Homo sapiens: one gene and its partner. The main gene of each other region encodes a partner of the protein of the gene in region 2 in a complex. Each region holds a gene or a part of one and is shown on either strand. Other genes may lie near its edges.

Region 1 (7,033 bases), on a different chromosome or scaffold from region 2:
CTCCCAAAATGCTGGGATTACAGGCGTGAGCCACTGTGCCCAGCTGGAGTAGATGGGATTTAAGCCGGCATTTTTTCTTAAAGTTGTAAGCTTTAAAGAATTGAATAATCTCAGAATAACTTTGAGAAGTTTACTACTTAAGCACCTTCTGTGATGTGATGTTAATTATGACCCTCTTTTTCATTTGTGCTGGAGTGAGCCTGGGTTTTCCTAAGTTTTATGTAAGTCATAAAGCATATTTGTGCCCTTGCTTGGGTCCTCAGAGGGAAGCTGTTTCCTGCCCTTGCTAAGTCTTACTGTAGTGCTGTCAGGCAGTAGGGTACAATTACTCTTCACATGTTGTATTAATCATCTGGCACTGATAATATGCCTCCTTGCATTGCTCATATCAACTACATATTGACATTCAAAAGGGGAGGAGATTGAATTGATGGGAATTATCTGGTAGTGATTTTCGTTTGTCCATGGGAAAAACCCTTTGCATATTATAAAAGTGACTCAAAATATTTTTAACAACTATATTGGTCCAGCTGTCAACTGGTCTATAACACAATGTTTAATAACAGGAATTAGTACTGTCAACTGGTCTGTAACACAATGTTTAATAATATATTAGTAATTAGTATTATATTTAAAGTTAGAAATGGGAAAAGACAACATAGAATAATTTGTGCCACACAGAATGCCATATGCCAGAAAGCCCACAGGAGAAAACTACATAAGCCCTGAAAATCTAGTTCATAAAGAGTGTTGGTTAAAATACAACCCTGGAACAAGAAACTTTTGGTGTTAATAATTATATGAGGCCAGGCACAGTGGATCACACCTGTAATCCTAGCACTTTGGGATGCTGAGGCAAGCGGATCACCTGAGGTCAGGAGTTTGAGACCAGCTTGGCCAACGTGGTGAAACTCCATCTCCATTAAAAATACAAAAATTATCTGGGCATGGTGACACATGCCTGAAGTCCCAGCTACTCGGGAGGCTGAAGCAGGAGAATCACTCCAACACAGGAGGCGGAGGTTGCAGTGAGCCGAGATCACGCCACTGCACTCCAGCCTGGGCGACAGAGCGAGACTACATCTCAGAAACACACACACACACACACACACACACACACACACACACACACACACACACACAGCAATAAGACAGATTCGACCCATATGTATATTGGTGCTTTTATGAATAATGTTTTCTCAGTCATTTATTTGAGTATTTTTATGTTAATGATTCAAATTGTCATACTATAAAGAAGCTTACTGTGGTCCTGTAGGGCCTACCATCCTGTGTTGGTATTGCTCCAAAGATAAGCATTTTTGATTAAATTGGAGATTGCCCTCATTTGGGGCAGGGAGGGGGGTGCTTAGTCCAGTGATTTCACAAGCATTTTGGTCTCAGGACCCTTTTTTAACTCTTAAAATTTGTTGAGAACAGCAAATAAATTGTTTTTCTTATAAACTTTGAGAAATTTAAAAAATATTTAATAAGTAATTCAGGCTGGGCATGGCGGCTTATGCCTATAATCCCAGGAGTTTGGAAGGCTGAAGCTGGGAGTTTGATAGCAGCCTGGGCAACAAAATGAAATTCCATCTCTACAAAAATTCAAAAAATTAGCCGGGCATGGTGGCACACACCTATAGTCCCAGCTACTAGGAGGCTGATGCAGGAGGATCACTTGAGCCCAGGAGGTTGAGGCTTCAGTGAGCCATGATTGTGCCGCTGCACTCTAGCTTGGGTGACAGAGCTAGACCCTGTTTCAAAATAACAGCAACAAATAAATGATTTGTCTTGCACTTAAACTTTTTACCCATGCATGATTTCCTGACATTCACTGGACATTTTATCGTTCACTGGGTTATGCAGATCTTCCAAATGTTACACATTACATTATATGCAATCAAAAATTCACGTTCATTAATATCGTCACAAGTCTGTTAAATCAGAAATGGCTTTTAAAATATTCAGAAAGTCCGAATGTGGCAGCTTAGGCCTGTAATCCCAGCACTTTGGAAGGCCGAGGTGGGCGGATCATGAGGTCAGGAGATTGTGACCATCCTGGCCAACATGGTGAAACCCTGTCTCTACTAAAAATACAAAAATTAGCCAGGCGTGGTGGCACGTGCCTGTAGTCCCAGCTACACGGGAGGCTGAGGCAGGAGAATCACTTGAACCCAGGAGGCAGAGGTTACAGTGAGCTGAGATCATACCACTGCACTCCAGCGTGGCGACAGAGCAAGACTCTGTTAAACACACACACACACATCCACACCCACCAAATAAAATATTGGGAAAATGTTTAAGTTCATGATTGTTGATACAAGTTTTCAAAAACACTAATCTTTGCCTAAAAAATTCAGATTTTATTATTGGCAGCAAATATCGTCAGTGGTCTTCCTTGAAGTGACAGGTTCACTTTGTTCATTTGCAAGGAAATGTCTGCTAGTGAAGCAGGTTTCAAATAATGTTTGTCAGTAGTTCTGCCAAGTAAAAATCGTGTTCCATGAACAAAGCTCTAGTTCATTTTGCAACTCAGTTGTACTGTGCTTTTTCCTGAGAATTCATAAAGCAGCAGAGTGCTTTATGCATACTTTCCCTTTCATCACAAAGAATATTTTTAAAAAATGCACTAAAGGCTCAAGATAATTCATAATTTTTGCTGTTCATCAAGGACATCTTAAGTGGAACTCCCTTAAAAAAAGAAAAACTGAGTGGAGAGTATAATGACTATTAGTATAGTTTGGTGCCTCTTCCTTGATTTGTGCTAATAATGTACCAGCAGTTTTGTTCACCTTTGTTTTTGTACTCTGATTGCAAATGTCAACACAGTGTAAAAGGCAGATAATATTCTAGTATTGCTATGAAAATACCTTTGATTTCACGAACCTCCAAAATAGCCTGTGAGATCCCCAGAAGTCCAGAGACCACACTTTAAAGAACAACTGGCTTAGTTCTTTACGTATGTTTCCTTTGGCTCCCAGACCACATAGATCAAGGGGGATCAAACAGAGGCAAATGACTGAGATTTTTAGCTTGGTTACTAAATAAAAGCAGTGTCATTACTTAAGGTAATGAAACAGGATGCGGAATAGTGTGCTGGAAGGAGAAAGTGAATTCTGAGCTTCAGGGGGCTTGAGGAACATAGAGGTTATAGGAATCTTGATTAGTGCAGCTCAGAAGTTTTTCTTATGGTTAAGAAACCTCACCATACTAGTGGTTGTTGAGAGAGAAGAGGGCAGAAGGGACCTTGTGCAGCACCAGCATTTAAGGGTCCAGGAGGAAGAGAAGAGGATGATAGTACAAGGACATCAGGAAAGAATTAGAAGAAGGTCGGTATTGTCCAGTGCTTCAGAGAAGTCAGATAGAATGGGGACTGAGGTTTGACCATTGGATTTGATAATAAGATTACTGGTCACCTTTGCCAGAGCAGTAGGGGGTGAAATCCAGATTATGGAAGAGTGAAGAGTGCAGAGACAGTTATTTATACTATTCTTAGAGAAGTTTTGGGGTAAAGGGAAAGAGAGATATTTGGGCAATTAAGTATGAGAGAGAGGCTGTACTGAGGGCAGAAGATACTTGAGTAAATTCCTAGGCTGAGAGGAAGAAGCCAGTAGAGAAGATATTGATGACCACTTTGATCTGAAAGAAAAGAAAACTGATGAAACAAGTTGGTATTACAGATGTGGTACAGTTAGCTTTGTAGTATAATCTATACTTCTAGAGAAGTGAGAAGCTGATGAAAACTGGATTCCCTGGCCAGAAAAATGCACAGACCTGTGATATTTGGCATACTTTTTTTAGTGAACACGGGAATTCCTTACTAATTTTTTTCTGTTTAATTATTGCTTAGTTTGATGTGTCTTGCTTTAAATCCATTTATTTCAACAAGCTTAAAGAGATTTTTTTTTAATGGAGATGATTTAATTTTAACAATCTGTGATTTTCTCTGAATCGAACTTGTGTTTTGGCACCTTTCAATCTGTGGTAACAAATGACAAGAAGGGTGCAATTCTTCCTTCCCTTGTGCAGGGATTTTGCCTCCCCCTTTCTCCCAGATGAAAGATATTTGGGTCTCTAGAATAACTGTGGTACAGTTAGCTCCAGAGTGTTTTCTTTCTGGAGGCAGTTTAGACAACAGCCTCAAGTAGTGCTTTTGTTAAAAATATACATGTTTTTAAAAGTGCTTGTATTTCTAATATTCTTTTCTCCTTTCTCTTCTAGTCTGTTCTCTGGGGAGGCAGTAAGGGGCCGTGGAGCTGGCCTCGGCCTCGGCATCGGGAGAGGCTGGACTTCCTGTCTCTCTGTGCTGAATGGCTGCGATGGCGCCCGCTCTCACTGACGCAGCAGCTGAAGCACACCATATCCGGTTCAAACTGGCTCCCCCATCCTCTACCTTGTCCCCTGGCAGTGCCGAAAATAACGGCAACGCCAACATCCTTATTGCTGCCAACGGAACCAAAAGAAAAGCCATTGCTGCAGAGGATCCCAGCCTAGATTTCCGAAATAATCCTACCAAGGAAGACTTGGGAAAGCTGCAACCACTGGTGGCATCTTATCTCTGCTCTGATGTAACATCTGTTCCCTCAAAGGAGTCTTTGAAGTTGCAAGGGGTCTTCAGCAAGCAGACAGTCCTTAAATCTCATCCTCTCTTATCTCAGTCCTATGAACTCCGAGCTGAGCTGTTGGGGAGACAGCCAGTTTTGGAGTTTTCCTTAGAAAATCTTAGAACCATGAATACGAGTGGTCAGACAGCTCTGCCACAAGCACCTGTAAATGGGTTGGCTAAGAAATTGACTAAAAGTTCAACACATTCTGATCATGACAATTCCACTTCCCTCAATGGGGGAAAACGGGCTCTCACTTCATCTGCTCTTCATGGGGGTGAAATGGGAGGATCTGAATCTGGGGACTTGAAGGGGGGTATGACCAATTGCACTCTTCCACATAGAAGCCTTGATGTAGAACACACAACTTTGTATAGCAATAATAGCACTGCAAACAAATCCTCTGTCAATTCCATGGAACAGCCGGCACTTCAAGGAAGCAGTAGATTATCACCTGGTACAGACTCCAGCTCTAACTTGGGGGGTGTCAAATTGGAGGGTAAAAAGTCTCCCCTGTCTTCCATTCTTTTCAGTGCTTTAGATTCTGACACAAGGATAACAGCTTTACTGCGGCGACAGGCTGACATTGAGAGCCGTGCCCGCAGATTACAAAAGCGCTTACAGGTTGTGCAAGCCAAGCAGGTTGAGAGGCATATACAACATCAGCTGGGTGGATTTTTGGAGAAGACTTTGAGCAAACTGCCAAACTTGGAATCCTTGAGACCACGGAGCCAGTTGATGCTGACTCGAAAGGCTGAAGCTGCCTTGAGAAAAGCTGCCAGTGAGACCACCACTTCAGAGGGACTTAGCAACTTTCTGAAAAGCAATTCAATTTCAGAAGAATTGGAGAGATTTACAGCTAGTGGCATAGCCAACTTGAGGTGCAGTGAACAGGCATTTGATTCAGATGTCACTGACAGTAGTTCAGGAGGGGAGTCTGATATTGAAGAGGAAGAACTGACCAGAGCTGATCCCGAGCAGCGTCATGTACCCCTGTGAGTAGACCTCATGCATGATAGCATTCTTGAGAAATGTTGGCACAAGGAAGAATGAATGAATCGCCATTATGGAGAGAATGTGATTCTTTGTACATAGGTGTCTAGGTTCTGTTTGTTTTTTCCCTGATGTTGGGTAGATGAGTGCATATACATGCTAGTGAAGAAGGGGAAGATACTTTTGCTGTAGGGTTGTATTGTTGTAGTCTAAATGGTGGTAATTTCCTTTTGAAGTCTAAGAAAAATAACTAGGAGACATCTTATGTGTAAAATTGTACTAGTACCTCTTTAAGAGTGAATTTAGATTTCTTTTGAAACTATATATAGGACATGATAAGTTAATGGCCTGATTGTTGAGATTTTGTTGTTTCCAGTAAGCAGGGACAAATGCTGAGTTGACCTAGTTACCTTTGTAGGAAATTACAGTTGCTTTTGATTGAACTTTCAGCAGAGAGCACACCCAGTCTTCAATTTTAACACTTGAGATTTTCTTACATTTTAAGGACTGACAATTAGAAAATGCTTCAGAATATTTAATACATCGCCTCCAAGCACAGTCTAGTTTCACAACCTGACTCTCTTCCTATTAAAAAAAAAAAAAAGCCCATTTTAAGCAGATTTGTTAAGCTGAGTTAAATGTATTGATGTATTTGGAATAAATTCTTACTGGGTTGTTTTTTTTGTTGTTTTTTGTTTTGTTTTGTTTTGAGACAGTTCCGCTCTGTCGCCCAGGCTGGAGTGCAGGAGTGCAGTAGTGCGATCTCAGCTCACTGAAGCCTCTGGCTCCTGGGTTCAGGTGATTCTCGGGCCTCAGCCTCCCTAAGTAGCTGGGATTACAGGTACCCGCCACCAAGTCAGGCTAATTTTTTTCTTTTTTCTTTTCTTAAGTAGAGACTGAGTTTCACCGTGTCGACCAGGCTGGCCTCAAACTCCTGACCTCGTGATCCGCCCACCTCATCTTACTGGTTTTTCTAAATCTGTTGGTTTGAGAAAATTTTACATAAGCTTTTTATGGGTGGCACTCCAAATTGGCATGGTGGAGACAGAGACGTTTCATTCCTGTCACTCCCAATTCAGCATCTATGTACTTAATTAAATAAAGCAGTACTATATTATAACATACTTAAAGATACATGTTAAATAAGTGCATTTATCTCCTTAGGAATATCAGATTTGAGAGAGAGCATGAGGAGTTGGAAAAGAGGGGCAGGATAATTGACTAGCAGATCTTTCATTTTCTCTTTGCTAGAGGCTGGCTTACTAGAGAAGGCTGAAAAAGATGAATATGTGGGAAGAATTGGTGTTTCCTTGACTGTATTAAAAGGTGATGAAGATTTTCACTGGAGTGTTTGGTTGTTGAGACAGCTATGATTTTTAAAAGTAAATTTTCTGGTTTCCCAATTTTGTTTATATTATCTGCATGGATATTGTATC
Region 2 (7,033 bases):
GCTGTAAGAACTCTTTTAGGCCAGTGTGGCCAGAATATAATAGCAGTAGGGGTATAAGTGGGAGGTAGGGAGAAGTTGGCAAGGGTTACCTCGTGAAGGAATTTGATTCTAAGAGTGGTAAGAAGTCACTGAAGGATCTTAAACTAGAGATTCAATTTATACTTTAAAAAGATCATTTTGGATTTTTTGTTGAGTATATTATAGTGCAGGAGTAGAACTTACAAGACCAGCTGCAGGCTGCCACTGCAATGGACTGAGATGGGCCAGAAATCGTGATATCTTGTATAGGGCAGGAACAGTACAAATGGAGAAATATAGATGACTTTGAGATGTATTTCATAGGTAGAGTGAATAGGTTAATAGGATCTGCTATGGTGAATTGGAAGGAAGAGCAAGAACCAGGGTTAAAGGGAAAGGTAAAATTAGGATGACAGATTTCTGGCTTGAGCAGTTGGGTGGTGCCATGAGTTAGGGAAGACTGGAGGAGGATAGGTTTGTGATGGTGAAATCAAGAGTTCTCTTTTAGCTACACATATCCAAGTACTAGCTCAATGTCTGGCCTGGAGAAGATAATCAGCTCTTTTGCCCACCACCAAATCTAGCTGCACATGATTTCATTTCATTTCATAATGATGTAATTATTTCAGTCATTGGAAATGGATGCAGTAAGGTCACTGAAGTCAAAAAGTTAACATAAAGTTTGGCAGGTAGCCACTAGACCAGTTTGTTTGGCATAGTATTTGGGGTGACAAAGTTGGTGCAATGTATCATAAAGTGGGGAAGGACCCTTGGGGCACTAGGATTTGTTTCTTACTTTCTTTTTTTTTTTTTTTGAGACGGAGTCTCTGTTGCCCAGGCTGGAGCGCAATGGCGCAATCTTGGCTCACTGCAACCTCTGCCTCCTGGGTTCAAGCAATTCTCCTGCCTCAGCCTCCCAAGTAGCTGGGATTATAGGCACCCGCCACCATGCCTGGCTAATATTTTTAGTAGAGACGGAGTTTCACCATGTTGGTCAGGCTCGTCTTGAACTCATGACTTTAAGCAATCCACCTGCCTCGGCCTCCCAAAGTGCTGGGATTACAGGCGTGAGCCACTATGCCCAGCTAGATCTCATTTTAAAATATGAAAGACCTTTAGATGTTCATTTATATTTGTTTCTGTTCTAGGCTCTGTACAAAATGAGCTAAGTAGCTAAGGTATGTGCATTCCAGGTCATCTGTCTTAGATAATCATACAGAAAGGAAATCATAGACTTTACAGTATATATTAAATAACTACCAGTTGACTTGCTAATGAAAGGGAAAGTTTGTATGAATTTAAAACTCTAGACCAGCACTGTTTAACAGAACTCTCTGTAATAATAGGAATGTTCTATACCTGGGATGTCCAGTGTGGTAACTGCCGCCACGTGTATCTGTTGAATGCTTGAAATGTGGCTAACGTCACTACGGAACTGAATTTTTTATTTTTTTATTTTTTTGAGACGGAGTCTTGCTCTGTCACCCAGGCTGGAGTGCAGTGGTGCAATCTTGGCTCATGGTAACCTCCGCCTCCCGGATTCAAGCAATTCTCCTGCTGCAGTCTCCCAAGTAGCTGGGACTATAGGTGCACGCTGCCACACCCAGCTAATTTTTTGTGTTTAGTAGAGACGAGGTTTCACCATGTTGCCCAGGCTGGTTGCAAACTCCTGAGCTCAGGCAATCCGCATGCCTCTGCCTCCCAGAGTGCTGGGATTACCGGCATGAGCCACCATGTCCGGCCTTTTTTTTTTTTTTTGAGACAGAGTCTCGCTCTGTTGCCCAGGCTGGGGTGCAGTGGTGTGATCTCGGCTCACTGCAACCTCCGTCTCCCGGGTTCACGCCATTCTCCTGCCTCAGCCTCCTGAGTAGCTGGGACTACAGGCACGTGCCACCACACCCTAATTTTTGTTTTTTTTAAGTAGAGATGGGGTTTTACCATGTTGGCCAAGCTGGTCTCGAACTCGTGACCTAAGGTGATCCACCCGCCTTGGCCTCCCAAAATGTTGGGTTTACAGGCGCGAGCCACTACGCCCAGCCTGAATATTTAATTCTATTTAAATTTTTTTTTTTTGGGCCGAGGTCTCTGTCACCCAGACTGAAGTACAGTGGTGCAATTTTGGCTCACTGCAACGTCCGCCTCCCAGGCTCAGTTGATCTCCCACCTCAGCCTCCCATGTAGCTGGGACCACAAGCTAATTTCTGTATTTTCAGTAGAGACGGGGTTTCACCATGTTGCCCACACTGTTGAACTTGTGGGCTCAAGTGTTCTGCCCACCTTGGCCTCCCAAAGTGCTGGGATTACAAGCCTGAGCCCTTGTGAGCCCTTGTGCCCAGTAATTTTTTTTTTTTTTTTTTTTTTGAGATGGAGTCTCGCTCTGTCTCCCAGTCTGGAGTGCAGTGGCGCAATCTCGGCTCACTGCAAGCTCCGCCTCCTGGGTTCACACCGTTCTCCTTCCTCAGTGTCCTGAGTAGCTGGGACTACAGATGCCTGCTACCATGGCTGGCTAAATTTTTGTATTTTTAGTAGAGACGGGGTTTCTCCATGTTAGCCAGGATAGTCTCGATCTGACCTCGTGATCCACCTGCCTCAATTTAAGTAGTCGTGTGTGGCTTATACCTACTGTATTGAACAGTATCTAGGCAATCAACTTGTTAGCCACTTTTCTCCATTTGTACTGTTCTTGTCCCTAAACGAGCTCTCATGATTTCTGGCCCATCTCAGTCAACTGCAGTGGCTGCCTAGCTGGTCTTCTAAATTCCACTCCTGAGCTGTAGCCTACTAAACAAAAATTGAAAGTGATCTTTTAAAAATATTAGCTTGAGCCAAATCAACTTGCTTATGGAATATATTGTCCTTTTTTTTGAGACTGGGTCTTGCCGTGTCACCCAGACTGGAGTGCAGTGGCATGATCAGAGCTGACTGTAGCCTCAACCTCCTGGGCTCAAGCAAGCCATCCTCCCACTTCAGTTTCTGGGACTGCAGGCGCATACCACCATGCCTGGCTAATTTTTGTGTTTGTTTTAGAGACGGGGTTTTGCCATATTGCCAAACTGGTCTTGAACTTCTGGGCTTAAACAATCCTCCTTCAGCCTTCCAAAGTACTGGGATTACAAGTATGAATCACTGTGCCTGGCTATATTTGTCATTTATTTATTTATTTTTTGAGACCAGCTCACTCCTGGGCTTAAGTGATCCTCCTGCTTCAGCCTCCCAAGTGCTGGGATTACAGGTGTGAATCACTGTGTCTGGCTGTATTTGTCATTTATTTATTTATTTTTGAGACCAGGTCTTGCTCTGTCACCCAGGCTGGAGTGCAGTGATGCAATCATGGCTCACTGCAGCCTTGACTTCCCGGGTTCCAGCAGTCCTCCCACCTTAGCCTCCTTAGTAGCTGGGATCACAGGTGTGTGCCACATGCCCAGCTAATTTTTGTATTTTTGGTAGAGACAGGGTTTCCTCATGTTGCCCAGGCTGGTCTTGAACTCCTGAGTTCAAGCAATCCACCTGCCTCGGCTTCCCAAAGTGGTGGTATTACAGGTGTGAGCCAGTGCACCTGGCCCATATTTATCTTAAAAAAAAAATAGATGTTTATCATTTTTTATATAGACTCATTGAAAAAATGACTTTGTGTTCTTCCAGTACATACCATCATGTCTGAGAGGGCAGAGATCTAGACAAGTGTGGGAAAGATGACTTTGGATCAAAATTTTCTTGTGAATATAATGTGCTTATGCGTAATTTAAAGCTGACTGTATTAAAGATACATTTTTTGTCAACCAGATGATTGTTAAATACCTGTGAAGTATGTGTGGCCCGGTCCTATTTCCTCACCTGTTTACAGTGAATCAGACGTCCCAATAGATGTGGAGACGGTCACATCAACGCCTATGCCACTCTATGACAATCAGAAGGCACGCAGCGTGATGAATGAGTGTGAACGGCATGTCATCTTTGCCAGGACTGATGCAGATGCCCCTCCTCCACCAGAGGACTGGGAGGAGCATGTCAACAGGTAGGCTGCTCATCAGGAGGATGATCACTGCCCTGTAATTATTTTGTATCATCTTCATTGAAATAACACTTATTAGGACCTTATTTCATTTGCAGCAACACAAGTCAGAGTGTTCTCCAAAGTCTCACATTATAACTCTCAGTTCACCATGCTGTGTGTGAGCTCCTTGAGAGTAGGGCTTACATCTCAGCCATCTTTGCATACTTCACACTAGGACGTTGTCTGGCACACAGTAGGCATATAATGTTTGTTGAATAAATAAGTGAATTAAATTTGATACATATGACTAGCTCTGTAGTAGCTTCTGTTGTATAAGTTATGATATAGGGGTTACCCAAACTGCAAAAAAATGAAATGTACATTTGTAAGATATTGTGTTTAAATGGTTTATAACTAGGATGATGGAAGTTGTGAAGTCACATGAAAAGCTAACAGATGTTTGAGTGGCTTTTAAAAATAGATTTGCAGGCTATGGAGGGCACACTGAAGCCTATTTTCACGAGTATACTGGCTAGTTTTGTTCCCAAGCTTTCTACTGCCCCCAGGGGACTCAGCACTCCTCTCCTGGTTATTTGTCCCTGTTCATTTGGTAAACATTTACCTAATTACATAACAGCTTTTTGGGGATATTATTTACATACCATACAATTCAGCTATTTAATATGTACAGTCATTGGTTTTTAGTATAGTCAGAGTTGTATATTCATCACCACTATCAATTTGATAAACATTTTCATCATCCTAAAAAGAAACCTCTTACCCATAAACAGTTACTTCCCGTTTCCTCCCAGCTTCTCTGGTCCCTAGGAAGCACTAATTGACTTTTGTCTTTATAGATTTGCCTATTCTGGACATTTCATATAAATGGAATCATGCAATATGTGGTCTTTTCCTACTGGCTTCTTTCACCCAGCATGATGTTTTCAAGGTTTATCCATGTGGTTGCGTGTATCAGCACTTCATGCTTTTTATTGCCAAATGACATTACATTGTATGGATAGCCCACATTTTATTTATTCATTAATCAGTTGATAGATATTTAGATTGTTTTCATTTTTTGGCAATTGTGAATAATGCTATTATGAACATTTGCATACAAGTTTTTGTGTGGATCTAAGTTTTTAATTCTCTTAGTTATATACCTGGGAGTGGACTTGTTGGGTCATATGATAACTCTGTATTTAACCTTTGAGGAATTGCCAGACTGTTTTCCAAAGTGGCTGTACCATTTTACATTCCTACCAGCAGTGTATGAGAGTTCTAGTTTCTCCATATCCTTGCCAACACTTACTGATTTTCTTCTTTTTTAAAAAAATTATAACCATTCTACTGCGTGTAAAGTGGCATCTCATTGTGGTTTCAACTTATATTTTGTTGATGGCTTTTTGTCTGTGTATCCATATATCTACTATATATATAAGGAAATGTTACTTCTTATATCAGGAGTTGGTAGGTGGTAACTTTCCATAATTTTGGAGAACCCTTATTTTATAATAGAGAGAAAGAGGGGTAGAAAGTTTGAGGTGATTGACATGACTTCTGAAGCTGGTTGGAAGTTGGGAATGAGATTGAACAGGTGTGCTTGTGTGATCAAAACAGCAGCTGTTGAGGGAGGAGCAGTTCTGCACCTTGGTTGAAAAAGCTTGTGAAGAAGTTGGTTGGGGTCTTGCATTGGAATTAATTTAGTGCCTTAAGAAGCTCTTTTCTCACGCCTGTAATCCCAGTACTTTGGGAGGTTGAGGCGGGTGGATCACCTGAGGTCGGGAGTTCAAGACCAGCCTGACCAACATGGAGAAACTCTGTCTCTGCTAAAAATACAAAATTAGCTGGGTGTGGTGGCGCATGCCTGTAATCCCAGCTACTCGGGAGGCTGAGGCAGGAGAATCACTTGAACCTGGGAGGCGGAGGTTGTGGTGAGCCGAGATCGTGCCATTGCACTCCAGTCTGGGCACCAAGAGTGAAACACCATCTCAAAAAAAGAAAAAAAAGCTCTTTTGAGCTTCAGATAAAGAAGAAAACTGCTACGAATGAAGATCAACTACTGGAATATTGCTAGAGTCAGTATATTCAGCAAAAGGATTTATCACTATTTTTACAGTTAATAATAAAAAATAACGACGATGGTAATAACAAAAAGGAGCTACCGTTTGTTGAGTGCTTTCTAGGTGCCAGACATTGTATCAATGTCTCTTCAAATGCATTGTCTCTTAATCCTCCCAATGACTCTTGGAGGTATATCCCCCCTTCATCTCTGCTCAACAGGATGAAGAAACTGAGCTCAGGGTGTTTAAGAAACCTTAATTAGGAAGTGATGGAGAAGGATTTTGTTCAAACCAAGCAGCCTGACTCCAGAACCCAGTGTTCTCAACTACCATACCCTCTGCCTTAATTAAGGGCAGTAAGAAGAGATTAAGACCAGTTAGTGGTGGCTGAACAAGGTGGCCTGGTATGGTTATGTATCCCTTTGTGGTATTTTCTACTACCTTGTCCTTTGCAATTTCAGAAAGTACATAGGAGAACTGTGTGATTTTTTTTTTTTTTGTCAGTTTATCCATGGTTATGATTAAGAGGTTTTTGTGGACAATTCATACTTATCAAAGTCATTAGAGACTTAATAATACTATAAATACCAGTTTGTTTCTTTTTTCTTTTTTTTGAGACAGGGTCTCACTCTGTCACCCAGACTGCAGTGCAGTGGCACGATCTCAGCTCACTACAAGCCTTGACCTCCAGGACTCAGGTGATTCTCCCGGGTGGGAACCTTAACCTCCCAAGTAGCTGGGACTACAGGAGTACGTCACCATTTCTTAATTTTTGTAGTTTTTGTAGAGATTGGGTTTCACCATGTTGCCTAGGCTGGTCTCAAACTCCTGGCTCAAGTGGTCTGCCCACCTTTGCCTCCCAAAGTGCTAGGATTATAGGTGTGAGCCACTGCACTTGGCTGAGTTTCTTAATTTATAAGGAGAGATATAACTGCAAAGCATAAGAGACACTGGGGTG

What was found.
Region 1: KANSL3 (region 2) and KANSL1 share a complex: the UniProt entries of both Homo sapiens proteins name them as parts of the NSL complex.

The regions. Positions count from the first base shown.
Region 1 is NC_000017.11:46,169,421-46,176,453, reverse strand, and holds part of KANSL1 (KAT8 regulatory NSL complex subunit 1), read left to right. Parts: intron 1-4,221; 5' UTR 4,222-4,310; coding exon 4,311-5,599; intron 5,600-7,033. UniProt on the Homo sapiens protein: Non-catalytic component of the NSL histone acetyltransferase complex, a multiprotein complex that mediates histone H4 acetylation at 'Lys-5'- and 'Lys-8' (H4K5ac and H4K8ac) at transcription start sites and promotes transcription initiation.
Region 2 is NC_000002.12:96,628,312-96,635,344, reverse strand, and holds part of KANSL3 (KAT8 regulatory NSL complex subunit 3), read left to right. Parts: intron 1-3,801; exon of another isoform or gene 3,802-3,862; coding exon 3,863-4,033; intron 4,034-7,033. UniProt on the Homo sapiens protein: Non-catalytic component of the NSL histone acetyltransferase complex, a multiprotein complex that mediates histone H4 acetylation at 'Lys-5'- and 'Lys-8' (H4K5ac and H4K8ac) at transcription start sites and promotes transcription initiation.